2 separate regions of the Homo sapiens genome follow, and region 2 is linked to region 1. Evidence: fine-mapped QTL for protein levels in blood plasma. A gene starts in region 1. The other region holds a variant in brackets. All regions are shown on one strand. Distances are between the middles of the regions.

Evidence for each region. PIP is the posterior inclusion probability: the model's chance that the variant is causal. The UK Biobank Pharma Proteomics Project read protein levels with antibody pairs (Olink). The fine-mapping took linkage between variants from a reference panel, not from the people measured, so its PIPs are less certain.
Region 2: its variant is fine-mapped to the plasma level of the PI16 protein (UK Biobank, PIP above 0.99).

The regions. Positions count from the first base shown.
Region 1 is chr6:36,949,424-36,961,988 of GRCh38, forward strand. It overlaps PI16 (peptidase inhibitor 16), which reads left to right and starts at 5,315. Exons shown (of 7, transcript NM_153370.3): 1 at 5,315-5,508; 2 at 9,722-9,943; 3 at 12,028-12,137; 4 at 12,463-12,551. The coding sequence starts at 5,338. RefSeq lists enhancers at 9,218-9,719, 9,720-10,219.
Region 2 is chr6:36,921,906-36,938,628 of GRCh38, forward strand. It overlaps C6orf89 (chromosome 6 open reading frame 89), which reads left to right. Exons shown (of 9, transcript NM_001286635.2): 9 at 1,442-7,059. The coding sequence ends at 1,536. Among named protein-coding and RNA genes, the nearest start is that of PI16, 24 kb to the right of the region's middle. The variant G/A (reference allele first, on the strand shown) is at 9,071.

The DNA.
Region 1 (12,565 bases):
TAAGTCCCCTTATTTCTATCTCAAGCCTAAGTTGTCAGGAACTCACTGAGTTCTCCCGTCTATGGAGGAAAGAGATCCATCTCACAGCTTTGCCACCTGAACACCCTGGGACAGCTGCCCAGGGGTCTGGGCTGTAGTCTAATCTGGTCAGTCTTCTTTCCTCCACTTGGATTTTTCTCAAATAGCGTCCCTTTCTCCCCAGACTAACCCATTTTCCTGAATTCTTCCGATTCTTTTCCACATCTTGTTCCCCTCTACCCCCTAAGTCTTCCTTCTCCCCTTTTCAGCTACCCATTTATTTGCATATTCATTGTAAATACAGTTATTTGAAGTCTTTTTCAGATTGTTCTATTATCTCAAGTTTCAGGGTCAGAAATTCTCCTATTGTGATGTATGCTGTCTGTCTGTTGCTCATGGTGACTCAGTTCCTGATGCATTTGATACTTTCTGATTGTGAGCTAAAGTTGGATATTTTTTTTTTTTCTCATGGTGGCTCAAGTGGCCTGGGTTGTAAAGGCTCCCTCCAGACACGATTTTTCCTTTGTCACCGTACTCCTGGCCAATGTAAGAATTCCTGTTTTTGTGGTGGTGGTTGTTACTGTGGTAAAATATAGAACATAAAATTTACCATCTTACCCATGTTTATGTGTCCAGTTCAGTGGCATTAAGTATGGACTTTCACAGCATTGTCACCATCACCACCGTCCATCAACAGAACTTGTTCCTCTTCCCAAACCAAACCTCTACACCACTAAACACTAACTCCCCATTCTCTCCTTCCTCCAGCCCCCGGCAATCACCATTCTATTTTCTGTCTCTATAAATTTGCCTACTCTAGCTAGGTACTGCATATAAGTGGGATCATGTAAGATTTGTTCTTTTGTGTCTGGCTTAGTTCACTTAGCCTAATGTCTTCAAAGTTCATCCATGTTGTAATATGTGTCAGAATTTCCTTCCTTTTTAAGGCAAAATAATAGTCCATTGTATATGTGATCGTACATTTTGTGTATACTACACTATTAGTTCATTCATTGATGAACATTTGGGTTGTTTCCACCTTTTAGCTATTGTGACTAATGCTACTATCAACACCGGTGTACAAATATATTTGTTTGAGTCCCTGCTTTTTTTTTTTTTAAGATGGAGTTTCGCTCTTGTCGCCCAGGCTGGAGAGCAATGGCACGATCTCGGCTCACCGCAACCTCCACTTCCTGGGTTCAAGCGATTCTCCTGCCTCAGCCTCCTGAGTAGCTGGGATTACAGGCATGTGCCACCACACCCGGCTAATTTTGCGCTTTTGGCAAAGACAGGGTTTCTCCATGTTGGTCAGGCTGGTCTCGAACTCCTGACCTCAGGTGATCCGCCCGCCTCGGCCTCCCAAAATGCTGTGATTACAGGCTTGAGCCACCGTGCCCGGCCAAGTCCCTGCTTTTAACTCTTTCGCGTATATACCCAGAAGTGAAATTTCTGGCTCATATGGTAATTCTGTGTTTAATTTTTTGAGGCACCGTCACACTGTCTTCCACAGTGGCTGCACCTTTTACATTCCCAGAAGCAATGTACAAGGGTTTCAATTTCTCCATATCCTTGTCAACACTTGCTATTTTCTGTTTTGTTTTGTTTCTTAATAATAGCCATCCTAATGAGTGTGAAGTGGTATTTCACTGTATTTCCCTAATGGTAAGTGATGTCGATCATCTTTTCATGTGCTAATTGGCCACTTGTATATCTTCTCTGGAGAAATGTCTTTTCGACAATGAATAATTGCATGAATAATTGCATAAATGAACAATGAATTTTCAAGTCCTTTGCCTATTTAATCAAATTTTTTTTTCTTGAGACAGGCTCTCCCTCTGTTGCCCAGGCTGGAGTCTGGAGTGCAGTGGTGTGATCTCGGCTCTCTGCAGCCTTGACCTCCCAGGCCCAAGCAATTTTCCCACCTCAGCCTTCCTAGTAGCTGGGACTACAGGTGCATGCCACCATGCCCAGCTGATTTTTGTATTTTTTGTAGAGATGAGGTTTCACCTTGTTGCCCAGGCTGATCTTGAACTTGTGGTCTCAAGCGATCGGCCCGCCTTAGCCTCCCAAACTGCTGGGATTACAAAGTGCTGAGCCACTGAATCGACTTCAAATTGTTTTGTTGTTGTTGTTGTTGTTGAGTTGTAGGAGTTTTAAAAATATATCCTAGATATTGGCCAGGTGTGGTGGTTCATGCCTGTAATCTCAGCACTTTAGGAGGCCAAGGCGGGCAGATTACTTGAGGTCAGGAGTTTGAGACCAGCCTGGCCAACATGGCGAAATCTTGTCTCTACTAAAAATACAAAACTTAGCCAGGCATGGTGGCGCATGTCTGACGTCCCAGCCTACTTGGGAGGCTGAGGTGGGAGAACCACTTGAACCCGGGAGGCGGAGGTTGCAGTAGCCAAGATTGCGCGAGTGCACTCCAGCCTGGGTGACAGAGCGAGACCCTGTCTCAAAAACAACAACAAAAAACCCACAAAATATATATCCTAGATATTAATCCCTTATCAGATACATGATTTGCAAATATTTTTTCCCAGTTCATGGGAAATTGTGTCTTTTTTTTTTTTTTCTTTTGAGACTCCGTCACCCAGGCTGGAATGCGGTGACTGGATCTTGACTCACTGCAACCTCTGCCTCCCAGGTTCAAGCAATTCTCCTGCCTCAGCCTCCTGAGTAGCTGGGACTACAGGCGCCTGCCACCACACCCAGCTAATTTTTGTATTTTTAGTAGAGACGGGGTTTCACCATGTTGGCCAGGCTGGTCTCGAACTCTTGACCTCAAGTGATCCACCCACCTTGGCCTCTCAAAGTGCTGGGATTACAGGCATGAGCCACTACACTCTGCCCCCGAAAGTTCTTAATTTTAATGAAGTCCAATTTATTTTTGTTTTGTTGCCTATGCTTTTGGTGTCATATCCAAGAAATCCTTGCCACATCCAATGCCAAGAAGTCCCCCTTATATTTTCTTCTAAGAGTTTTGTAGTTTTAGCTTTTATGTTTAGGTATTTAATCCATTTTGGAGTTAATTTTTTAATATACTTACGGTAAAGATTCAACTTCATTATTTCGCATGTGGACATTCCAGTTTTCTAAGTCTTCTTTAAAAGACTTGCCTTTCCCTCGTTGAACGGTCTTGGTACCCTTGTCTAAAATCATTTGACCATATGTGTAAGAGTTTATTTCTGGGCTATTCTATTCCATTAGTCTAAATGTCTGTCTTTATACTAATACCACACTATTTTAATTATTGTAGATTTGTGGTTACATATTAAAATCAGAAACTGTAAGACTTCCAATTTTGTTCTTTTTCAAGATTGTTTTGACTATTTGGGGTCCTTTGAGATTCCATATAAATTTTAGGATGGATTTTTCTGTTTCTATAAAAATATTATGATTTGCATTTCAATAGGGATTGCATTGAATCTGTAGATTGCTTCAGGCAACATTGACACCTTAGCAATATCAAGTCTTCTAATCCATGAATATAGGATGACTTTCCATTTATTTGTGTCTTCTTTCACTTTGTTTGTCAACACTTGTGATTTTCAGCGTACAAGTCTTTTGCTTCCTTGGTTAAGTTTATTGCTAAGGGCCAGGCGCAGTGGCTCACACCTGTAATCCCAGCACTTTGGGAGACCGAGGCGGGCGGATCACGAGGTCAAGAGATCAAGACCATTTGGCCAACATGGTGAAACCCCATCTCTACTAAAAATACAAAAATTTGCCGGGCATGGTAGCAGCTATGGTGGGCAGCATGGTGGGCAAGTAGTCCCAGCTACTTGGGAGGCTGAGGCAGGAGAATCACTTGAACCCAGGAGGCAGAGGTTGCAGTGAGCCAAGATCATGCCACTGCACTCCAGCCTGGGTGACAGAGCGAGACTCCATCTCAAAAAAAAAAAAAAAGTTTATTGGTAAGAATTTTATTCTTTTTATTCTTTTTCATTGCTTTTATAAATGAAATTGTTTTCTTAATTTCCTTTTTGGATTTTTCATTATTAGTGTATAGAAACAACTAATTTCTATGTGTTAATTTTGTATCCTGCAACTTTGCTGACTTTATTAATTCTAATAAGTGTGTGTGTGTGTGTATGTGTGTGTAATCCATCTTGGTTTTGTTTTTATTTTTACTTGGAGACTCAGGCAGGGACAGGTTTTCTTGTCATCTTCCAAAGCCTGTGGGTAGACTTTTTCTAGGTCCCTATTCATTGAAGAAGCAGGCTTCAAGGATCCCAGCTGTCCTCAAGAGTACTGGTTCCAGCTTCCTGCTTCATGAACCGGTCATGGCCCCTGCAAGGTCAAGGTCATTATAATGCCAGCACCTGACTGCTAAGGCTATTTCCCTTCCAATACCTTCCCCTCAGAGCTCCTGGTGCATCAGCTCATTCAACCTTCTGCTTTTCTGCTCTCTCTTGATTTAAGAAACAGACACATTATATTTCTACATAGTTAGAGCACAGGGGTCCCAGCATCCCACTTCCAAATGAGCATGTCAAGCACATGCATTCAGAGAGGATACCTGGAAGCCAAAATTTTGCCATAGTGAAAGGCCTTATTCCTGAATACAGCTAGAGTGGGGAAGACCTTGGCCTCTCCCCCCGCAGGCAAGAATGTTGCCTCCACAGGGGGCTGGTAGCCTGCTAAGGCCCAGGCCACATGAGTGGGTTGTCTACTGTTACTGAGGGCCTACTATGTGCCAGACACCATACTAGGTGCTTTACATACATTATATGTCATTGAATCTTCCCTCTAGTCCTGTGAGATAGGTACTATTATTGTCACTGATTCACTTGAGAAAGCTGCCAAAACACAGATAGCAAGGGGCAGAACCAGGATTCTGATTTAGGTTGGCTCAGCCTTTTATCAAATACATCTGGTCTTCCTCTGTCCTTTCAAAAGCCTATAGCTTCCTCATCTTGCCCACTCCTCTGTGGGTAGGGTCTGTGGTTTCCTTTCTCTTATCTATCTTCAACACACAGTGGGTGTGACCTGGGTGCAACCAGTCACAGCTCTGCAGAGGTTACTGTGATTTTGCCCCTGAAGGATCTGTCCACAACTTAGGAACTCACACAGCTTTTGGCCTGAGCCCCCGTTACCAAGAGAAAGGAGGTTTTTGCCAAGGACTCCAAGGGGAGTGCACTTGATGCTGGTCGGGACCCAAAGCGCCCAGCCCTCCCTGAGACATTGTGTGAGTCGGGCTGGGCCTCAAACACGGCCCCCACTGCCCCACCCCAGCCAGGGTGGTGCTTGTGTGGGAAGGACTTTAAATCCAGCTGCCAGACCCCTGGACGGGAGAAGGAGAGACGGCTGGCCACCATGCACGGCTCCTGCAGTTTCCTGATGCTTCTGCTGCCGCTACTGCTACTGCTGGTGGCCACCACAGGCCCCGTTGGAGCCCTCACAGATGAGGAGAAACGTTTGATGGTGGAGCTGCACAACCTCTACCGGGCCCAGGTATCCCCGACGGCCTCAGACATGCTGCACATGGTAAGTGTGGCCACGGCCCTTGCTGGCTGGGATGGAAGGGGTGCTGGCCAGGGTCTGTCACCAGGCTCTCTTACCCTGCTCCTCATGCTGAAGCTATTTCAGAATTCCTCTCCTTTTTCTGGTCAGTGACAGAGTCCCCGAGTCCCTGACATGGTATTACATTACTTTAAATGGCAAAAACCACAATTACTTTTGCACCCGCCTAATAAAATTCACAGGCCCCTATAAGCAGCCTCATAATACAGATAAGGAAAGTGAGGCTCAGAGGGATTTGTTGGGGTCACACAGCTGGTAGAGCCAGACCCAAAGCCCTGGCTTCCCACTCCAATGAGCTTTCCCCAGCACTTCCTCAAATGCATGTGCCCTCAGTGGGGGAACCCGGGAAGTTCTTAACACCTTTGTGAAAACGGTCTTTCACATGCCTGCCAAGGAGAGGACAAGAGGAAGCAGGGCAGCAGGATGGGCGTGGGCACGTGGAGTAGGAGGCAGGTGCTAAGGAGGTGGGTGACAGCAGGATCCAGAAGCAGAGAGGGCTCTGGATCACACAGTCCAAATTCTGTCTCGGTCACCTACAAGACCTATGATTCGAGGCAAGTCCTGTAACCTTGCCGATCCCGTGTCTCATCTGTAAAAGGCGGTCAGAATTAGAGCTACGTATATACCAGTGTGGATTGAATCTCACAGATATCATACTGAATGGGGGAGGAAATAAAATCTCTAAAAAATACACAGTAGGATCTCTTTACATGAAGTCTGAAAACATGTAAAAATACTATTTATGTCCTGGTGAAACACGCAGATGTAGTAAACATTACATGTACATGCACACAGGAGACAGAAGCCAGATTTAGGGTTGGTTACTTCTGTCAGGAAGAGCTATTTATGGTAGGGTGAGAGGCGGGCTGTCTATATGCAGAATTAAAGGAGATAAAGTGAGAAATTCACCCACTTCCTGCCCTCCCTGAGGGCTGAACTAGCTTGTCCCCTCCAGCCACCCTCAGGTGACTGGGGAGGTTGCTGGGCAGTGTTCAGGGACCCCTGGAGCTGGTGCCTGAGAGAACAGATGCACCTTGGGGAACATAACAGTGAGCCTGGGGCCCCAAACCTAAGTTCTAACCTCAGCCTAATGTGATCTGGCTGAAGTAACTCTGGGTGGACCCCTTTCCCTTCAAAGGCCTCTGTTTCCAGATGGAAACATGGGGCTGGCGATCCCTGCCCTGGGCGTCAGACAGGATGACACGTAAGAAAGATCTAGGAAGAGCTCTGCACACACCCAGCACTGCCGTTCACAGCTGTGCCAGCCTGCACATCGAGGAAAGGTGGACAACAAACCAGGCGTCACAGATGCAGCTCTGCCAACAGCTCCCTGATTGAGGCCTGTGACTCATTGTTGGACTTCAGTTTCCCCACCTGTAGATCCCTGATGCCCTACAGTCTTGCTGGCTGAGACTGGGGGCCACACAGGCTGGGAGCTGCTTCTCAGACAGAGGTGCGCCTTGGAGTGGGGCAACATTCTGGGAGGCAGTTGGGATACTGAGGGGATATGCTGCTGCCTAATGGGGAGTGACATGAGGAGGAGGAGATGAGGCTGGGGCTGGGATGCCAGGAAACATTCAGGACAAGACTCAGGTTCAACCTCAGCAGTGGTGAGGGCAGGGACTCTGCAGCCAAATGGCCTGGGTTCAAATCTTAGCTTTGTTACTTATTAGCTTTGTGACCTTGGCCAAATTAAACTCTCTGTGCCTCAGTCTCCTCATCTGTAAAATGGGGATGATAACAGTGGGATAATTCCCTTGTAGCTACAGTGGTTGTAGGGTTAAGTGAGTGAATATGTGTAAAGCACTCAGAAGAATGCCTGGCACACAGTAAGTGCTCAGTAAGTGTCTGATTAACACAAAAGAGGGAATGGATCCAGGGTGAGGCAGGTGGGGGTTATCATGAACTCTTCCTTCTCTCTCAGCCTCCAGAGCTAATCAGCACCAGTTTTGCCACCCCGAAGGTTCAATTGTCCTTGAAATCTAACCCTTACCCCTACCCCCTTCTCTTTTCAGCACAATCCTGGTTCAGGTTTCTTTCATTCTTCCACACAAGGACTCCTAGGATAGCCTCTACCTGTTCCCCAGCTTCTGGCCTCTGCTGTCAGAATGAATAATCCAACACATGGGCCTGACCCTGCTCAAAATCCTTCAGTGGCTCCCATGGCTCCCTACTGCTTCAGGTTAAAGCTCCAGCTCCTGACTGAGAAGGTTCTGTGTGTTCTGGCCCCTGCCTATCTCTCCATCCTCCTCTCCCGCTTGCCCTTTATTCTTCTGTCACCTGAACAGCTTGTCTTTTCCCAGCCAAAATGTTTCCCAGCTTCATGCCTTTGCTGATGTGTACCTTCTGATTAGGATGCCTCTCCCCTCCAGCTGACTAATGCCTCATCTTTTAACACTTAGCTTGGTGTCTCCCTCTCCACCTTTGGCTGGGCTAGATGGCCCTCTTTGGTGCCTCTATAGTACTTGTGGCACATCTGTCATTTACCATGTGGTGGCCCAAATGACTTTTATGTCAATGGAAATTTGGGCTTCTTGGTTCCTGCTGTTGTCCCAGGGCTGACACAATGCCCAGGACTGTTGAATGAATGAATGAATGGACTTGCTTCTAGATGGTGACCATGTGGCCAATGTGGGTGGGTGCTGAGAGTCTTACAAACTCCACAGGGGGCTCTGGATGACTGACTGAGAATCCTTAAGACCAAAGCAATGATGCTAATGGTGGGGCTCCAGATATCTAGTCAGAATGGAAATTACAGCCAGGCTCTGTAGGGGTAGACTGCTTTAAGAAGGGCCCTGTCTCAGTCATCAATAGTTGACAAGTATCTGTTGAGCACCTACTATGTGCCAGCACTGCGCCAGACACTGGGGATCCATCCATGCCCTACCGTGATGGCACTTACAGTCCAGCCCGGCACCTCGCAGGTGATCTCAGACACCCTGACCCTGGCCCCCAGCGCCCTGCCCCTTTCCCACTCCCAGTCTCCCACTGTTGCCAGAGTTGAGAGAATCTCAGGGGCCAGTGATTTGGGACAAAAATGTCCAGAGAGGGAAAGATACTCACCCAAGGTCACAGCTGTGGAGCTATCCCAGCCAGGTGCACCCATCCCCATGCCAGGCAGCGGCTCCTGAAAGCCTTGAGTGGGTGGGGAGTAGGTGTGGCCACACAGCCACCTCCCCTCAGGGTCACCCAAGCTCTTGGCGCTTTATGGGCTGTCTGGCTCCCAGAGCTGGCTGGGCCCTCATAGGGTGGAGCAAGAGCTGCCGCCAGGCCATGGATTTCCAGGAGAAGCCAAGGACAGCGTTTAATGGGATCCAGGTTTCCCCTCCTCAATCCTTTGGGTCGGATGCCTTGTTAATCCCTCTTCCCACCCACACTCGGCCTGTCCTCTCAGCCAGGGACACAATCGCAAAGGCCCCGAACCTAAAATTCCCCCTCTCACCATCTCACCTGAGGTCCCCACTGGAGAACACTGTCACTGGGGTCTGACAGTGGGTTACCAAGGCTCTGAAAGTAGGCCCCTTGGTGAGAGGCCTGTGACATTCAGTGTCACATAGAGACGCTTAATTTTCTTGGAGAAAGGGGGTTGCCGTTGACAAGGGTTGGGAGCAGTTAGGAACAGCACTGGGGCGGGAGCCTGCAGAGGGTAAAGGCATGGGGGCTGGGTGACCCAAGGGGAGGGTGGGGGCTTAGAGGGAGAGGAAGGTGCCGGCCCTCAAGTCAGGTTCATGGTTGAGGGGTAGGGAAATGGGCTGAATAAACAACCCAGCCCCTCAACATCGATCACACCGTGATCTTGTGCTCTTCAGAGAAGTTCAAGGAGGACTGGGAGGTAGGCAGGGGCATGTATGGCCACCTTTTTCACATGAGGCTTTTAATAATAACACTGTCACCAACACCACCTCATCCACTCTTCCCAGCCCTCTGAGGGTGCGGAAAGTTTAGACAATCCGTGCAGTCACACAGCTGGTGAATGGTCCAGCTCCACGGCCTGGGGTGGCATCCTTCACCGCCCCACAGACGCCCACCCAGAGCAGAGACCTGTTCTAGGCCATGCCCAAGAGTCACCCTGCTAAGGAGGTGCCGGAAGGATTTCCCCACGACCTCCTCGACCTTTTGCTTGGTCCCCACAGCATCTGTGGGCATCCTCACCTCCCTTCTCTCACCTGCCCTGCAGAGATGGGACGAGGAGCTGGCCGCCTTCGCCAAGGCCTACGCACGGCAGTGCGTGTGGGGCCACAACAAGGAGCGCGGGCGCCGCGGCGAGAATCTGTTCGCCATCACAGACGAGGGCATGGACGTGCCGCTGGCCATGGAGGAGTGGCACCACGAGCGTGAGCACTACAACCTCAGCGCCGCCACCTGCAGCCCAGGCCAGATGTGCGGCCACTACACGCAGGTGTGGGCCCGGCGGGCGAGGCGGGGCGGAGCCTCGCGGCGTGGGGGTGGGGCCACGTGCTCCCTGGGCGGGGCCACCTCTGCCTTCACCCCTCCTAAGCGTCCTCGCTGCAAGTAGGCGGGCTTCACTCCAAGCCCCCTCAGACACTTTGCAAATCTTGTCCTCTCACTGCAGCTAATACGCTGTCTAAGACTCTGACGGAGTCGGCTGCTCCTAGTCTGCTAGGCCAGGCGCCGTAGCTCACCCCTGTAATCCCAGCAATTTGGGAGGCCGAGCTGGGAGGATCGCTTAAGGCCAGGAGTTGGAGACCAGCCTGGGCAACATGGCGAGATCCCTGTCCCTACAAAAAAATACAAAAAACTTTGCTGGGCGCGGTGGCGCGCGCCAGCTGCTCTGGAGGCGGAGGTGGAAGGATCACTTCAGCCCAGGAGGTTGAGGCTGCAGTGAGTCGTGATCACACCACTACACTCCAGCCTGGGCGACAGAGGGAGGCCCTGTCTCAAAAAAAAAAAAAAAAAATTAAATAAATAAATAAATAAATAAAAAGGGGTGGGGACGGTGGGACATGTTAGGTGTCACAGAGCCAATTTTATGGACCATGGTTATTGTCCTAGGCCATACTGTACTGGGCTCCAAGTGATCCTGCCTCACTTCCCCCAGATAGTGCAGAGCTGTTTGCCCCAGCAGCAGATAGTCCCTTAACTTCTCTCTGTGGCTCTTTTGCATTTATTATGGTGTCTAATTTGCTACTTCTCATCTGCCAGGGACTAATAAAGCAAATTGACAATTTTGCTTAGTTTTTCTTTTGCATTTAACAATTATGCATAACGATGAAGAACAAATTGTGGCTGAATGAAAGGCTTCAGGGAGATTTCTGATAGAATTTCCTGCTCCCCAGTCACACTTTGCTCCTGTCTGGGTTCTCACTGCATTTTGAAAGTTTGGGCTTGCAGATAAGATGTGTGTGTGTGTGTGTGTGTGTGTGTGTGTGTGTGTGTAGGGGAATTAACATTAGTGTTACTGAATTATTTTTTCTCCTCCCAGTGCTTATGTGTTGTACAAATAATAACATGACAAACAAAAGAAAAGAAACCAACCATCTTCCCACCCACATCCACCAATTCCATTTCTCAGTGTCTCTTTTTCATGGTATTTTTAGTCTTCATCTTTAGGGAGGAAATCCCAGCAGCACCCACCCAGGTCAGAAAGTTGTGAGGGCCCAGCACCCTTCCTGGCCCTTTCCCTCTGGATCCTGCCACCCCTCCCTCTCCCTCCACCCCCCCCCTCCCTCTACCCCCACCCACTTGCTCCTGCAGGGATTGTTATCAGGACCCAGCAGGGAGTGAGTCAGCCCAGCTCCACCCCAGCTTTCTCTGGGGCTGAGGGTGCATGCACTCTGGAGTCGTTTCTGCCCAGAAGGTGCTCAACACGGGGAGACCTTCAGCTGATTTCAGCAGAGATTCCTGGGCAGATTGAACCTAGAACCAGCAAGGCAAGGCTGCTGGTCTCACCCCATGGCAGCACACAAATGTTGTTGGACTTTCTGTTTGATAAAGATAGAAGTCTTTCTAGCAGTTAAGAGACCCACACTGAGAAACAACCAGAACAGGTCCTGCTCACCTGTGATTTGGGGGAAGTTCCACTTCCAAAATGGCTCCTCCTGCTCCCCTCCTTGGACTTTTCTTGTTGCTGAGGTCTAAAATTCTACCATTTGAGATTCTTTCGTTTGGATATATCCTTCACTTAAAATGCAAGGGCCTCTAGGCCTTTTTTTCTAGCCCACAGAAAAAAATTAATGAGGGTATATCACAGTCCTGGAGCTGAGGGAAGGTTTTGAGAGGAAAAGAGACCTGGCAAAGTGGTATGTGTGGTTGGCAGAGGAGAGTAGACTGTTAGGGACAAACTCCCCCATCCCTCCCCCTGGTTAGAGTTTTGTCCTGAACCTGCATGGCCTTGGGGACGTGGATGTCACAGGCTATAGGGTGCCTCTTCTCTCCACTCCTGTAAGGCAGGTGTAGTGGGATGCCAGGAAGGCACCATGCCACCTCGCATGGGGCTGAGCTGCTAGGTTTGCCCTTCATCAGGTGGTATGGGCCAAGACAGAGAGGATCGGCTGTGGTTCCCACTTCTGTGAGAAGCTCCAGGGTGTTGAGGAGACCAACATCGAATTACTGGTGTGCAACTATGAGCCTCCGTGAGTGCCGGGGGGAACCCTGGAGATGGAGAGGGGGAAGGCACAGGCAGAGCCAAGGGGAGGGCAGAGTCGGCCACAGCCTGAGGGAGTGGGAGGAGAGGGGTCAGTCTGGAGCAATACTGTCCAGGGAGCTGTGAAGGCACCAATGGGGGTCTGCTGTCATCTGCCAGAGAGGGCCAGGAGGAGCCCAAGTTCGCCCAGCAAGTCAGTGGCTGGCAGTCAGGAGACCCAAGGGCATTTCCAGAGTAGGTGTGTGTATAGGAGTTGGGGAGAGGGTTGGGAGGGGTCGACCCCCTCCCCGCAGCATCCTCCTGACCTCCTGTAGGGGGAACGTGAAGGGGAAACGGCCCTACCAGGAGGGGACTCCGTGCTCCCAATGTCCCTCTGGCTACCACTGCAAGAACTCCCTCTGTGGTGAGTCCACGGGT
Region 2 (16,723 bases), 25 kb before region 1:
TAGTTCCAGCTACTCAGGAAGCTGAGTTGGGAGGATCTCTTGAGCCCAGGAATTTGAGGCTGCAGTGAGCTATGACTGCACCGCTGCACTCCAGCCTGGGCAATGAAGCGAGACCCTGTCTCTAAAATCACTGAATTAAAAATTTTTAAAGCCATGCGCGATGGCTCACGCCTGTAATCCCAGCACTTGGGGAGGTCAAGGCGGGCAGATCACCTGAGGTCAGGAGTTCGAGACCAGCCTGGCCAAGAGATGATGAAACCCCGTCTCTACTAAAAATAGAAAAAATTAGCCAGGCATGGTGGTGTGCACCTGTAATCCCAGCTACTCGGGAGGCTGAGGCAGGAGAATTGCTTGAACCTGGGAGGTGGAGGTTGCAGTGAGCCGAGATTGCGCCATTGCACTCCAGCTTGGGCAACAAGAGTGAAACTCCGTCTCAAAAAAAAAAAGAAAGAAAAAAAGAATTTTTAAAAGTATTGTAAACTATAGGCACAATGATGTTCAGCATCACTGGGGATTATTGAAAGGTTGAAGTTTTTAGGTTTACCTTCATAGCCCACTCAAATGATAGGTCAGTGTTTCCTAAACGATTCTTCAGATTACTCATGACCCCACAGGTGGGACCAGAAGGCCTTTGAAAAGACCCTTGGCAAGTAGGGTCTCGAGTCAGTCGACTTTGGGAAATGCCTGTCTTGTTGATGCATAGTACATTATTAGTGTATCAAAGATGTTGAAAAGCCTTGGGGAAACCTAGTGTTTCTCAGGCTTACTTGGCCATGGAACCTATTTTCTTTGGAATATCTTACAGGACACTACTGTTTGCCAAACCCAATTTGGGCAATGCTGGTTTAGGTTTAGGTTAATCTGGATGTTCTGTAATGAAACCACATTATAGATAGACACAGGAAAATTGGCTAGTAGGTCTTGTGTCCCCTCGGAATCCATTCTGTCTTCTTGCTGTAAAAGCTGAGACTTGATGCCCAACAGCAGCCTCATCTAGAGCATCCTGCCTTTGTAAGCCTGCTGAATTGTGATTCACAGTTCCCTGGGTGAGGGGTGGTGATAAAGCATTTAAAGAGGACTGATAATAACTAGGAATACTTATGCTAGGAAGTGCCAGAAGACTTTCAGAGCAATTTGTCTTTAAGCCAGGTGTAGTGGCCCACACCTGTAATCTCAGCACTCTGGGAGGCTGAGGCAGGAGAATCACTTGAGCCCAGGAGTTCAAGACCAGCCTGGGCAATATAGTGAGACCCCTATCTCTTAAAAAATAAAAAAGGAAAGAAAAAGAAAAAAAAGGAAACTAAATTAAATAGAAAAAGATTTGTCTTTGACTCTGCAGTGCACCCTGAGGGCCAGCTCTGGCAGACCTGCCTTGCTCGTGCCCACAGGTGTGCCCACCCTCTGACATTTACATGCCTTCCTCTTGCTATTTCCCCTCAAGGCTATGTCGACACCACCCACTGGAAGGTCTACGTTATAGCCAGAGGGGTCCAGCCTTTGGTCATCTGCGATGGAACCGCTTTCTCAGAACTGTAGGAAATAGAACTGTGCACAGGAACAGCTTCCAGAGCCGAAAACCAGGTTGAAAGGGGAAAAATAAAAACAAAAACGATGAAACTGCTTTCTGGGGGTTGGTTACTTAGTTACCTGCCCTTTGCATGCATGTGTGAACCAGCTGTGAGCTGCAAGGCAGTGGCCAGAGCCTCGCCCTCCTGACTCTTCCTGCAGGTGGCTCAGGAAGGATTCAGCCTGGCCACTTGGCTAGGACTCTGCCAGCACCCATCTGAGACTGACCTCTTCCGGGCCTTTGGACACTATGACCTTGATGCTGCCCTTCAGGCAGGAAACAGGGCTGGTGCCTTTCTTCACCTGCATGGCCAGCTTCCTTCCCTGGCAGTGGAGAGGGCAGCCAACAGGTTCTAATGTCAGAGCCATCCTTTACCAGGTGGGCCTGCTTGTCCCTGTCTTGCCTGCCACATCACTCTACTTTTTGGAAGGCCATGGCTGATTAAAGAAGTTCTTGTAGTTTCCCAAGCAAAGTGGAATCTAGAAACAGTGAAAAAAGTTCAGATAACTTTGAATTGCATTCAAGAAGTACACTTCTTTCCCATTGTCCGTGGCTCTTGGAGTCTCCGTGATGCCAGGCTAGAGTCTGATTATATAATAATTCAAAATGGTAACTCCCAAGGTAATGCTTTCTTCCATTTCATCAGGTTCTTTTATCCCCACTGCACCCCCTCCCCTTCTCCCTTGCCTATCTGGATGGCTTCTCAGAAGCTCGGCCCTAGTCCTCCCTGCCTTGGCGGGGCCAGAGCCCACTACTGCTGAGGCAGCACTGCTCTCGTCAGCTGTGTTGCCTTTACCAAGTGTCTTCAGAGGGTTATGAGTTAGAGTAGCTGGCCTGGGGAGAGGGTGCCTCCCTGGGTTTGATCTTTAGGGTCTGACTTTCTGCAGAGAAGATGTTTTACAGATGTGTCAAAGCTGATGTAATGTGGTTGGGGGAGGAAATCCAGACCCAAAGTGTTTGTCAGCTGGGTGTACAACTGCCTATGTGATCCTCTGTCTTAAAATGATTTCTGTCTGTGCTGCGAAACAAAGACAAGGTGAGGTGTTTTTCTTTTTTGTAATAATATAAAGCTGTGTGTTTCTGATTGGATGATTCACTATGTGCATTGTTTTCTCCTAAGTGCTTTTAGTAGGTAGCAATCAAATGGTGTAAATAAGGATGTTCTTTTCCTGTTCCTTTTATTTTTTTCTCTCTTTATTATTCTTTTATTGACACCACTAGATAGCTGGCCACTGGTCATGCCATTGCCAAGATGAAGAAAAAGCAAACTACACTTTGGCCTCTGGTTCTGAATTGCAGAAATCAAAGGATGCAGTAGGTGTCTATGTCAGAATTATGGATCAGAGGCAGACAATGACGAGTGAAGATGGTTGTGAAGCCCTCTTCATTCCTGGAGGAGCCTGCATCTCATCTCTCAGGCCCTCTTTCTCTGTGGGTCTCATGAACAGCAGTGGGGACCATTGAGCACTTGAATGGCCTGTTTGTCTATGGGCTTGCAAAGGACAAGCAGAGTTCACAGAGCTCAGGATAGAAACATCAGAGCCTCCTCCACGGGCTTCAGTGAAACTCCGATGAACTGTACCTGAGGGAATTTTTTCTTAATCAACCCCTTGTGTGGATGAATACAGGAACAACAAAACTTGTGTACGTATGAAAGTCATGTTGTTAAGCAGTTATGATTTAAGAGGTTTTAAGTCAGAGGGATCATCTGGAGGCCGGCTTTGTGCAAGCTTTTACAGCCTTCTGCAGTGTCCTTACCCTGGCTGTACATGGGGAAGGGCTATGTGTAAACAAGTGCTTTAGAGGCCTCTGAGAGTTTTTAAAAATCAGACCCATTAACAAAAGAGAGGGTTTCTTAGGAACAAAGCAACTATTTTGATTACTGAGATCTCTGTTTTGTTTCTGTGAGTTACTCTGTATTCCTTTCCCCATTTCACTCTTGCCCTTCACATCTTAAATGTCCATAAGAAACCCTTGCATGTGTTGGTATTCTGAGGCATCCCGTGGGAAAGTCCCCTAAGTCCCATTTTGTACTTCAACAAAAAATGACTGTAGCAGAAGATAAGTGGAGACTTTTATGGATATACTACTCATTTTACTTAAAATCTACCCAGTTCAGACTTGAATGTAAACTTGTATTAGGGGAAAATTCTCCAAAGAGGGTTTTCTACATACACAGAAGCAGTTCAACTTCTCAAGTTAATTTTGATAAGCAGAATCTACTACTGGCCAGAGCGACAGGAGTGGCTAGGGGTTGCCAGCCAGTCCCTTTCTGATGATCAAGGCCCTGCACAGCAGGATGCCACAGGATGCCCCTGCCATCTAGCTGGAAGCATCAAAAGTCCCTCTGTATGACCCGGTGTGGGAAAGAGGGTTGTCAGGATGAGAAAGTGGGGCTGCAGGGTGACGATAAGACCACCTAACCAACTCCCCACCTCCACCACCACAATAAGAACAAAACTGTAGGGCTCTAAAGAGAGGGGGTGGTTTACAAGTTTATTGAGCATTTACTAGGAAGTGACATGGCGATGACCTCTGTACATGAGTTAGGTTCACTTTCATGTGGCCTCCCACTACAGAGATGCGTATGCCCAGAAGTCAGCTCTCTGAGGAGACAGGCTACTTTGGCCCCAGTTTGAAGCATTCTGTCCAAATGTCCTGAGCTCTCCAGCAGTCAAGTAGTGAATGGATACCATACTTATTATGGTTGATGAAAAAAGGCAGAGCTTATCCTCAATTTTTTTTAGGGAAGAGAAGGAATAAAATAAAAGTGGTTCAAGCTGGGCATGGTGGCTCACACCTGTAATTGCAGCACTTTGGGAGGCTGAGGCAGGCAGATCACTTGAGGTCAGGAGTTCAAGACCAGCCTGGCCAACAGGGTGAAACCCCATCTCTACTAAAAATACAAAAATTACCCAGGCGTGATGGTGGGCGCCTGTAATCCCAGCTACACAGGAAGCTGAGGCAGGAAAATTGCTTGAACCGGGGAGGCGGAGATTGCAGTGAGCCAAGATTGTGCCACTTCATTCCAGCCTGGGCGACAGAGCGAAACTCTGTCAAAGGAAAGGAAAGAAAAGAAAAAAAAAAAGAGAGAGAGAAAAGAAGAGGGGAGGGGAGGGAAAGGGAAGGGAGGGGAGGGGAGGAGAGGAGAGCAGATTGGGGGGGCTCATGTTCTGAGAGAAAGGAATAATAGCATTTGTCTAGTACATTCCAGTTTACAAAGTGCCTGATATACATGATCTCCTTTAATCTTCACCCAATCCTGTAAAGTAGGTGTTAGATCCCCATTTTGCAAGTAAATAAGTGGAGGCTTAGAGCAGTTAACCGCTGGCAGGTAGGTAGCTGGTTCCATAGCACATCATTTTCCTGCGGCATCACGGCATGGTGCCGAAGAAGACAGCTGTGGATGTCGTTGACTCAGATGTGCCTCCGTTGGGGTGGGAGAACCCAGGGATGGGGGTCAGCAAGCCAGGAACTCCGCAGGGTTTGTTTTTAAAACTCTGCTGGACAGAAGTGGAGGAGGAAAGAATCTAACCATATGACTTTTATAAAAATCCTTTCACTTTTCCCCTCCCCATTTGAAAACTCTTTTTAAGAGTGAATGTAGCTGAAACACAACTGTGTCCAGCCATTTTCCTGTCTCCACATTCTTCCAGATGTGTGACAGAGGAGGGACTCTGCTCAATTCCAGTTGTGGGTCCCCTTGGAGTTTACATCACTTGTTTTTCAATTCTTGGTTTTCTGTTCCCTTCTACCAAAACCCAGCATAGGACTCAGTGTACACTTACTTTAAAACAAAAACTCACATTTCTTAGCTGCAGGTGATGGCCTCAGTCATTTTAATACAGCCTGGAATGAGTTTGCTTATTACCCAGTCACTTTCGTAGTGAATGTTCAAACCCCAAAGCAAATGTTTGCATCTCCTTGTCCATAAAGGAGAAAGCCAGGTTATAGGAGAAAGAGAGAGAAAGGCGCATGTCTGTTTGCACAGAGAGAGGCAATTTTGTCTACCTTTCGAGAATCAGTTATAAACAGAAGGGCCTCTTAGGATTTTGAGCTCTCCTGACAATGAAGGAAAAGCTCTCTTGAGTATACAAGTTCCACACTCATTACCTTTCAGTGGTGACCCATCACCCACTACAATTTGTTGAAGGAAGGGAGTGTCAGAGATATGCTTTAAAGTTGTACTTTAGGCTGAAATTCTCTCTGTATTTGGACCTGCAGATGTTGTGTACAGAACCGATGCATGGCAGGGTCAGGAAGCTAGGAGAGTGAAGGCGCTTGTGGAGACAGCTCTGTAGCAAATGAAACACGGAAGCCTCCGGGAATGTGTTTGTGTCACCAGCAGCAGGCATTTCCCTGTCCTCCCCACCCCCAGTCTCCACATCCCCAGCAGCCTCTTCCAGAAGCATGTCAGGGAGACGGACAGGTGCTCTCCTTCTCGTGCACCACATCCAAGTCCACCCACCGTGGACGCAGTGTGACTAAATGCTGGCCTTGAAGAGAAACCCTCAGCCAGCTTGTCTGTTGTCCAGGTCCCTCAGTGTCTCTGGTTTCCCTGCCCTGCATAATTTAAGCATTAGTGCCAAATACATCTGTCATATTCCTCTCCCTGGAGACTGCGAAATGTCCAGACTTTTTCAGACTAGTGGAGGGAAGGAATGTTACATAACTAAGTGGAGGCCTGGAACTGTCAGGATTTGACAGGGCTGGACCAGAGACCCTTCCGCCTCTGCCTAGTGTGTCTGTCAGGCAGGCAGCAGCCATCAATCCAAGAATGAGCCATGGCGGCAAGCACTGTGTGGAGAAAGGAACCCAGCCGAGGTCTGAGTTTCAGACAGAAACTGGGGAGTTGGGACATCTTCTCTGTGCCAGGCTTCATTGACACCATCGCTCCCCACAGCAGCTCCTTGGGGCAGGGGGCTCACCTGTGCAGCCACCCTTACTCACAGTAGCATCCCATTCTTCACACTGCAACCCCCCAGCACTGTGGACCCTTCCAGGGAGGTGACAGGAGCCAGCAGACACATGACATTCCCAGAAAGCCCCATCTTATCCAGACAGGCTTCCCTCCATACTTCTTTCCACAGTTTTACCCTCAGAAAAATGTTGGCTGCAGTCTTCCCTTCCTTCACCTCCACCCTGGGGAAGGGTCAGTAACCAATGCCGAGGGTCGGGGAAGGAGGAGTCACAGGCAAGACAGGGACTCAGCGCAGTGCTCCCGCCATCATCGGGGACAGGTGCCAGGGTCAGCTGCAGCTCTCCTTCCGGGAGCAGGGTGTGGTGGCCCTGGATGGTCCCAGGGAGCAGAGGGAGGCAGGCAGCTGTCACAGCCACAGCGGCTCTGAATGGCTTGAGCTTTTAGTATGTGTTCAAGTGCAGGATACTACAAACTGGTAAAGACTTCCACCATGTGAAGAATGTATGTAAATTAAAGTTTATTGTAATGAAGGTTTTTACTTTTTGCAATTAAAAGTGTTGGTTGATAAGAACTTTCCTCTTGTTGGTGTCATTCTTTAATTTCCAGTTTTCTCTTGTTTCCCCTTCTCCCATGACATGAGAGACTTCTAGCCATATCTCGCTCATGAGGCCGGCCTGTGGGGCTCCTCTGTGCCCGCCTGGCTTTGGTCTCTACCATTTGCACCCAGCACTGTCCTTGCATTCACAGCCTCCACTTTCTCCGCACCCCAGACGTTACCCACAGCGGCTTCTCATCTGCTATTCCCATGAATTCTCAAATCTCAGTCCCCCTGTTAATACCCTCCCCTGTCTGTGCACTTCACCCAGAATGCAGGTGAGCCCCTGGACGCCTTTTTTTTTCTCACCAGCTTGCTGCACACAGCCCAGATGCCCTCCCAGTGATGCCTCACCCACGGCGTCCTTGGTTCTCGCAGGACGGCCAGGCATGTGTGCGGGACTCCAGGCCCCTTGCTGGCTCACCCCAGCTGCCCCCAGATGACAGGCTGCTCTCAGCACTTAGTTAACTCGGTGGATTTCAGTCAGACATTTTTGTGTGTGTTCATTTTTTAGCCATTATATATATATATACTTTCATATAAATGCATAAATATGACCATTTTTTATATGCTGTTAAGTGTCCTCCTGTTTAATTTTTCTCTGTTACTTGCTGCCCCTTCCTCTTCCCCATGTTACCCCACCCCTTTTCCTAGTCAGGTAACTGTGATATATACACAGCCATACTCTGCCGTGTATTTTTCCATAATTTCCTCCATGCTCTCTAATCATAAACAAGGTTTTGTTACTGCTTTACCGAAAATGGGATCATATTACAGGCCCTTTCTTTGTCCTGCTTTTCTTACTCAACTCCTCACAGAGTTCTCTTCAGGTCAGCTGGTAGGGCTCCAGTCCCTTCTTCTTGATGGTTAATACTCCGTGGCGTGGGTGTGCTGTCATTTATTCTGCTGTTGTCTTATTGATGGTAAGTCACATCCTGTTAAATGATTAGTCGGGCTATAAGTCAAGAAGTCTGGAGTCCACTTTAAAATACTTGTTTTTACAAAATGTCCATTCTTGTTTGTTCCAACCCTAATATATTTTATTCAGGAATAAGATATATTATTCCTTTCCACAATTCTGTTCATTTACCTGCTTGAAAACTGGAATTCAGCCCTCCCCAAAAACGGGGCGGGGGGTAAGGGCTTGATTCCCTGTTAAAACATGATGAGATAGCCTGTTTTCAGTCCCCTTCTTTCTCCACCCCACTATAGCATTTGATACTGACTTGTGGAGAACCCGTCCCTCCCTCCCTTGGCCTCTGTGGTACTCACTACCCCTTCCTGGACCTCTTCTTCCTACTCTGTCTCCTTTGTAGGATCGTCCTCTTCTGCCTGTCTCTGAAATTTTGGTCTCTCCTATGGTTCTGCCTGCAGTTTCTCCCTGGGATATCTCAACTCCATGCTTCACCCTCCAGCCATGGGCAGATCACCTCCAGTCTATGCTCAGCCCACACCTCTCACTTGAGCAGTAGCCCTGTGCATCCACGTGATGGGAGGTCATCTCTGCCAACTCCAAAGCACCTCTACATCACCATGTCCAAAAAGTCTATGGCAGCCGCAAGGGGTTCCTCTCCTTTTTCTTAGCCTCTACTTCTGACCAGGACCAAGCTCAGGACAATCCTGCCTCCTTATCACATATCGAGCTCCACTGCTGCTGTCTCTGTCTAAGAGCTTGCTTCACTCTTAGACTCTGCCAGTAATTACCTCACTGGTTTCTCGCCGCACATTCCCCATCCCAATTCACCATCCATGTAGCTGCCCTGATGTCTGGTCACCTCCCTTCCTTGCTCCTCAGTGACTCTCCATTGCCCACAGGAGAAGTCCTGGCCACCACTCCAGCCTCATCTCCTTTGCTTCCCCTTCTCATCTCCTGTGCCCCTCCTCTACTGGACCATCCTAATTCCTGGAAACGTCCAGGCTGGGGTTTTTGTTGTTTGTTAATTTTTGGAGCAGTTCTAGGTTCACAGCAAAATTGAATGGAAAGTAC[G/A]GCGAGTTCCCATATATCCCCTGTTCCCGCATGTGCACAGCCTCCCCCACTATCAGCATCCCTACCAGAGTGGTGCATTTGTTACAGTCAATGAACCTACGTTGACAGGTCATTATCGCCTGAAGTCTATAGTTTATATTAGGTTCACTTCACTGTTGGTGTTTTACATCCTATATGGGTTTGGACAAATGTATGTTGTCCTGTGTTATATGTCTGCCATTATAGTATCATACAGAGTAGTTTCACTGCCCTAAAAATCCTCTATGCTCTATCTGATCATCCCTCTCTCCCCACTAACCCCTGGCAACCACAGATCTTTTACTGTCTCCATAGTTTTGCCTTTTCCAGAATGTTCAAATAGTTGGAATCATACAGCCTGTAGCCTTTTTAGACTGGCTTCTTCCACTTAGTAATAGGCACATAAGTTTCCTCAACATCTTTTCATGGCTCAATAGTTCATTTCTTTTTAGTGCCAAATAATAGTCCATGGTCTGGATATACCAGAATTTATGTATCCATCTACTGAAGGACATATTGTTTGCTTCCCAAGTTTTGGCAATTGTAAATAAAGCTACTAAAACCATTCATGCGCAGGTTTTTGTGTGGACAGAAGTTTTCAGTTCATATAACTAAATACAAAGGAGTACAATAATTGGATCATATGGTAAGAGTATGTTTAGCTTTTTTTTTTTTTTTTTTTTTTTTTTTTTTGAGATGGAATCTTGCTCTGCCACCCAGGCTGGAGTGCAGTGGTGCAATCTCAGTTCACTGCAAGCTCCACCTCCTGGGTTCACACCATTCTCCTGCCTCAGCCTTCTGAGTAGCTGGGACTACAGGCACCCGCCACCACGCCCGGCTCATTTTTTGTATTTTCAGTAGAGACGGGGTTTCACCGTGTTAGCCAGGATGGTCTCGCTCTCCTGACCTCATGATCTGCCCGCCTCGGCCTCCCAAAGTGCTGGGATTACAGGTGTGAGCCACCGCACCCGGCCTAAGTATGTTTAGCTTTTTATGAAACCATTGAATTGTCTTCCATAGTGGCTGTACCATTTTACAGTCCTACCAGCAATGAGAGTTCCTGTTGCTCCACAGCCTCACCAGCATGTGTCAGTGTTTTGGATTTGGGCCATTCTAATAGGTTTGTAACACCTTACTGCTTTAATTTGCAATTCCCTAATGACATACGATGTTGAACATGTTTTCTTATTTACCATCTATATATCATTTTTGGTGAGGATTCCAGATCTTTTGCTCATTTTTTTTTTATTATAGTCTGGTTGGTTGTTTTCTTACTATTGAGTTTTAAGAGTTCTGTGGCTTGTCTTCTCATTTCTTGACATTGTCTTTTCCAGAGCAGAAGTTTTTAATTTCAGCAAAGTCCAGCTTATCATTGGTTTCTTCATGGATGATGCCTTTGGTGTTGTATCTAAAAGGTCACCTCTATAACCAAGGTCATCTAGGGCCTTCTCCTGTGTTAACTTCTAAGAGTTTTATACTTTTACATTTTATACTCACATTTAGATTCATTCTGAGCGAATTTTTATGGAAGGTATAAGGTCTATGTCTAGATTCATTTTTTGCATGTTAATGTCCAGTTGTTCTAGCATATTGCCTTTGCTCCTCTGTCAAAAATCAACACTTTGGCTGGGTGCGGTGGCTCACACCTGTAACCCCAGCACTTTGGGAGGCCAAGGCGGGCAGATCACGAAGTCAGGAGTTTGAGACCAGCCTGGCCAACATGGTGAAACCCCATCTCTACTAAAAATACAAAAATTAGCTGGGCATGGTGGCGGGCACCTGGAATCCCAGCTACCCGGGAGGCTGCAGCAGGAGAGGCATTTGAACTTGGGAGGTGGAGGTTGCAGTGAGCTGAGATCGAGCCATTGCACTCCAGCCTGGGCAACATGGCGAGACTCCATCTCAAAAAACAAAAAAAAAAAATCAGTATCTTTATGTGGATCTGTTTCTAGGCTCTCTCTCTCGTGGTCTTTTGATATATTTGTCTGTTCTTTTGCTGATAGGACGCTGTCTCGATCACTATAGCTTTATAGTAAATATTGAAGTCAGAGTGGTGTCAGTCTTCTACCTTGTTCTTCTTCAGTATTAAGTTGGATATTCTGAGTCTTTTGCTTCTTCATTTAAACATTAGAATCCGTTTATTGATATCCACAAAATAGCTTGTGTTTGATTTTGATTGGGATTGCATTGAATCCATAGATCAAATTGCATCCAGGCGGTTTTAATTAGAAGTTATAATTCCTAGCCCATGATGTTTTTGAAATTCAGTATGAATTTTTGCTTAGTTTGAATTCCATCTTATTACTGCACATTCCTGTGACATGACACATGTCCTTTAGGCTTTCTTACTAAATCAAACTGACAAGCCTCTAGACACCATGCTGAAGACAGACATTTCACCAATCTTATTTTTTCAGAATAATGACTCTATTATTTTTTTTAAAATAATACATTCTTATTATAAAGAACTGAAGACAGTTTGGGTGATCTTATGGAAACCTCCACTCAGTGCCAGGTGCGGTAGCTTACAGCTGTAATCCCAGTGCTTTGGGAGGCCAAGGGGAGAGACCGAGAGTTTGAGACCTACCTGGGCAACATAGTAAGACCCTGTCTGTACAAAAAAAAAAAAAAAAAAAAAGAAAAATTTAATTAGCTGGGTGTGGTGACGCACACCTGTAGTCCCAGCCTCAGCCTCATCGCTTGAACCCAGGAGGTTGAGACTGCAGTGAGCCATGATTGCAACACTGCACTCCAGCCCAGGCAACAGAGCGAGACCTTGTCTCTTAAAAACAAAAAACCAAAAACCACCCAGAGATAACTACTAACATTAGGTGAACAGCATTCTAGGTATGTCTAAGGTATTTCTAGGTAGAATGCTAAATAGAAATGCTTATATTAAAATGCTATTTTAAAAAGAAAAGTTCTGAATCTAATTTTATGTGAATCTAACAGGAGAAAAAGAAACTGAAGTAGATGTTTCTTCCCCACAAAAATTAGTAGTTCCCAAAAGATCTCCCTGAAGTTAATATTATGAGAAACATTAAGAAACTAGAATTGTTCTTAATAAGGTTTCCTTTTTAGATGGCATAATCCAAGGCTCTAAAGATAAGGAAATAGCTTGCTCTTTCTCCTCAATTTGTTTATTCCTATATTGATTTTGTTTTTAAAGTCTATGCATTTCCTTCTGCTCTGAAACCTTAATTCTCACCACAGTCTTTTTTTCTTTCTTTTTGAAACAAAGTCTCACTATGTTGTTCTCACCAGCCTCAAAGAATCCTCCAGCCTTAGTTTCTCAAGTAGCTGGGACTTCATTTTATTTTATTTTTATTTATTTTTTTGAGGTAGAATCTCACTTTGTCACCTAGGCTGGAGTGCAATGGCACAATCTCAGCTCACTGCAGCTCTGCCTCCCGGGTTTGAGCGATTCTCCTGCCTCAGTCTCCTGAGTAGCTGGGATTACAGGCAAACACCATCGCACCTGGCTAATTTTTGTATTTTTAGTAGAGACGGGGTTTCACCCTGTTGGCCAGGCTGGTCTTGAACTCCTGAGCTCAGGTGATCTGCCCACCTCAGCCTCCCAAAGTGCTGGGATTACAGATGTGAGCCACCCCGCCCGGCCTTCATTTTATATTTAAACTGATTTTGTGGCTCACCACCAGTATTTTTGCCATTGCTTCTTCATTTCTGAGTTGTTATTTTTAAACTCTTGATTGAAGTCCAGCCACAGTGGCTCATGCCTGTAATCCCAGCACTTTGGGAGGTCTGGGCGGGCAGATCATTTAAGTTCAGGAGTTCGAGACCAACCTGGCCAACATGGCAAAACCCCATCTCTATAAAAAATACAAAAATTAGCTGGGCGTGGAGGCAGGCGCCTGTAATCCCAGCTATTTGGGAGACTGAGGCAGGAGAATAGCTTGAACCCAGGAGGCGGAGGTTGCAAAGAGCAGAGATCACACCACTGCACTCCAGCCTGGGCAACAGAGCGAGATTCCGTCTCAATAAACAAACAAACAAACAAACAAACTCTTGATTGGCTGAATTGCACCGTTAGGAATGACTCAGGAATGGCTCATGAGTTCTGTATTTTCTGCGTTAGGGAATGTTTCTGTGGTCTTTATAGTTGTGCACACCTTGGCTGAATAAAATATTCTTGCATCACACCTTCTTTTGCTCAGAATTTGGATATATTTCTCCATTGTCATCTGGTGTTGACTGTTGGTAGGGACAACACTGAGGCCAGCCGAAGAGTCCCATCTAAGAGGATACCCTCTAACGAGATATTCCCTTGGCTTTTTCTTTCTTTTTTTTCTTTCTTTTCTTCCTTTCTCTTTCTCTTTTTAAATCTATATGTCTGAATAGTTCTTTCTTGTTCTTTATCAGTTTTTCCTGGAACAAAGTGTGCTTTTTAGAGGTGCAATTCTATTCTTCATTCTAGGGAAGATGTCTTGTATTTTCTTGATGAATACTTTTTCTTTTTCATGTGTTAGGTTTTCTGTTTTAAATTCTATTTTTATTCTTTTTTTCATTGTCTTGATATTTTTTATACCTTTCATAGCTATCTCTCTTTTTAATGCATGTCTCTTTTCTCTTCATTCACCATGATTATCTCAGGCCTTTCCTTGATATCAGATTGATTTTTAGCCATATCTGTTCATTTTCTTGCTATTTCTCATGTATGAGTTTTGAAGAAGTGCCGTCAGTTTCTTTCCTTGTTATTTCATCTGTTTCAGCTTTGAGTGCCTACTTTCTTGAATTCATGTTTTTTTTACATTTTTCTATAGCTGAGACTACTACTGGGAATTTTTTTTCCTGTTCCTTGGATTACATTTTCTTCTGGACTTGGCTCTCATCAATCACATGCATGTTCCTTCCTTTCACTGTTTTCCTTTCATATGTTTGTGTATCTGCCATGTCATTTCTTTTATATGTTTTGTACTTCTGCCTCTGGCCAGACGTTTTGTTTGCTTCTGTAAAATATGAGTACATTATTAATTCCAAAAGTATCTGTAGCCACTACTTAGATTTAACAAATGTTAACATTTTACTGTATTTTAAAAGCATTGCTTCATGCAACCCATTTAGTACTTGCCATGAAACGCCCCCATCTTTACTCTGTTGTAACTGAGGTATCTCCTCAACAGGTAAACAACTGAAACTGTACTTCCCTTCCTGACCTCCAGTTGACTTTCCCTTTCTTCACTCTGTGCTAATCAGGAGCTAAGATTTTCTTAACCACCTACCATTTTCTATCTTCACTTTTTTTTTTTTAATCCTTATTTTTCACCCCCACTAAGGAAAATTACTGAGAACCAAGTTAGCAAAAACCTAGCAAATGGGCTGGGCTTGGTGGCTCATGCCTGTAATCCCAGCACTTTGGGAGGCTGAGGTGGGTGGATCACCTGAGGTTGGGAGTTCAAGACCAGCCTGACTAACATGGAGAAACCCCATCTCTACTAAAAATACAAAAGTAGCCGGGTGTGGTGGAGCATGCCTGTAATCCCAGCTACTCGGGAGGCTGAGGCAGGAGAATTGTGTGAACCCGGGAGGTGGAGGTTGTGAAGAGCCGAGATCGCTCCATTGCACTCCAGCGTGGGTAACGAGCGAAACTCCATCTCAAAAAAAAACAAAAAAAAACAAAAAAAAAAACCTAGCAAATATAAGAAACACAGCACTAATCTAAAAACCAACTTGATAACCCCTTCCTTTTCAGCCACTCAGGCACATACCCAGACACAGAGCCACTTGCTCTTCAGGAGCCCACCCACCAACGTGGAGGCCTGGGGACTTGGGAACCCGAAGCCTCATTACAAATCCCAGCTCTGGCATACCAGGAGAGTGACTTTGGAGGGTTCTGCCAATCCCTCTGCTCCTTGGTTTCCTCACCCCTAAATCAATGCAGCAAATAAATGCCATCTTCAAGGGGTCAGCGTAAAGATACGTGAGACGGTGTGGACGAAGTGCCCAGCTCTGTCCCAGCACAGAGCAGATACTTGACGCTGGGCTGCTGTCCCCTTTCCCTCTTATCATCAGCCTCCATCCCCCAGTGTTTGCTTCTGCCCTCCTCTGTGGACAGCCCTCCTCCAAGCCACCAATGGCAGAGCTGGACTAGACCCAGAAGATTCTCTGACCACCCCCTTCTTCCTTATGAATAGGGAAGAAGCTGAGGCCCATAGCTGGTGGCTGAATGAGGAGAACTCACCCAGTTTTCTCTTCAGTGTGTGGAAACACCATCCGCGTCTGCTGCCTGACCCCCTCATAGTCCTCTCCTTACCCCATTCCATCCTGAACCCTCTGTAAAAATCACCCAGAGGATATCCACACAGCCCCAAGCTTAACCCTTATCCTCTTTGCTGACAACTCCCAGCATTCAATGCTTTTCTTCACCTGTTTGGCCTAGGTTTGAGGGATGAGGACACAGCTCATTCATTTGGTTGCACCCATGCCTAGTTCCTTCTAGAGGCTGGGCCCTGAGGTGCTCTCTGGAGGTGCTCTGTTTCCCTCCTGCCATCTGGTTCCCTCAGGCAGCTCACAGGAGTGGAGGCAGCCACATTCTCCTTCCACTAACACAGATCCCTTTTTGGCTGAGGACAAAACTGAGGCTGTACAGCCCTAACTGCATGCTCAGGAGGCCTCGGAGAGAACTGTCCTGGCCCAGAAGATACTGCTCAGCTCCCAGCCACCCCACACCCTCTGTGCCTGCCAGTCTCCAGGCATCCCAAGTCCAGAGCAGAGCAAAGCATCAAGGGCTGTGCGTGATGGGCTTTTGTCCAGATGTCCAACTTTGGGCCAGAAAGGAAGATGGTCCCGGCCCCCTAAGGTTTTATAATCTTGTTGAGACACAGGGGCAAGTGTAAGGTGCATTGTAAGAGCTACATATTGGGAAGTAAGATGCTAAGAATTAAACCAAAAAATGATACAAAATGATTCCGAACAGAGATATAGAAAGTCACCTTAAGAAATGATTCCAAGATTCAGTGGTCAGAATGGAGCTACAGCACAGAGGAATGTTAAAGACAGTGCCCATCAGAAGACGGGGACGGTGGCCACCAATGGAAGCCCAGAAAGGGGAAACCTCATGGGCAGAGGCTGGCAGTGGCCATCTGATTGGGAGACAGTACCCCGGGGTGGTTGGCTTCAGTGTCCTGGCCCTGGCCAGGCCTACTCTTGTTGGACGGATGGTGCCACAGGCAGCGATGCCTCAGATTCTATAGCAAGCCTCAGATTCAACAAGCCTCAGATTCTATAGCAAGCAGAACTTTCCTCTGCCTTCCTGCTCACCAGGCAACCTTCTAATAAGTTGGTATCTTGTCTGTTTGGGCTGCTATAACAAAATTCCATAAACTAATTACTTATAAACAACATAAATTTATTTCTCACAGTTCTGGAGGCCAGAGATCCAGGCACCAGCAGATGCGATGTCTGGTGAGGGCCTGCGTTCTGGTTGATAGATGGCAATCTCCTCACCGTGTCCTCACATTGCAGAAGGGGAGTGGCAGCTCTCTGGGGTCTCTTTTATAAGGGCACAAATCCCATCTATGGGGGCTCTGCCCTCATGACCTAATCACCTCCCAAGGGCCCCTCCTGTTAGTACCATCACCTTGGAGATGGGGTTTCAACATATGAATTATGGAGGGA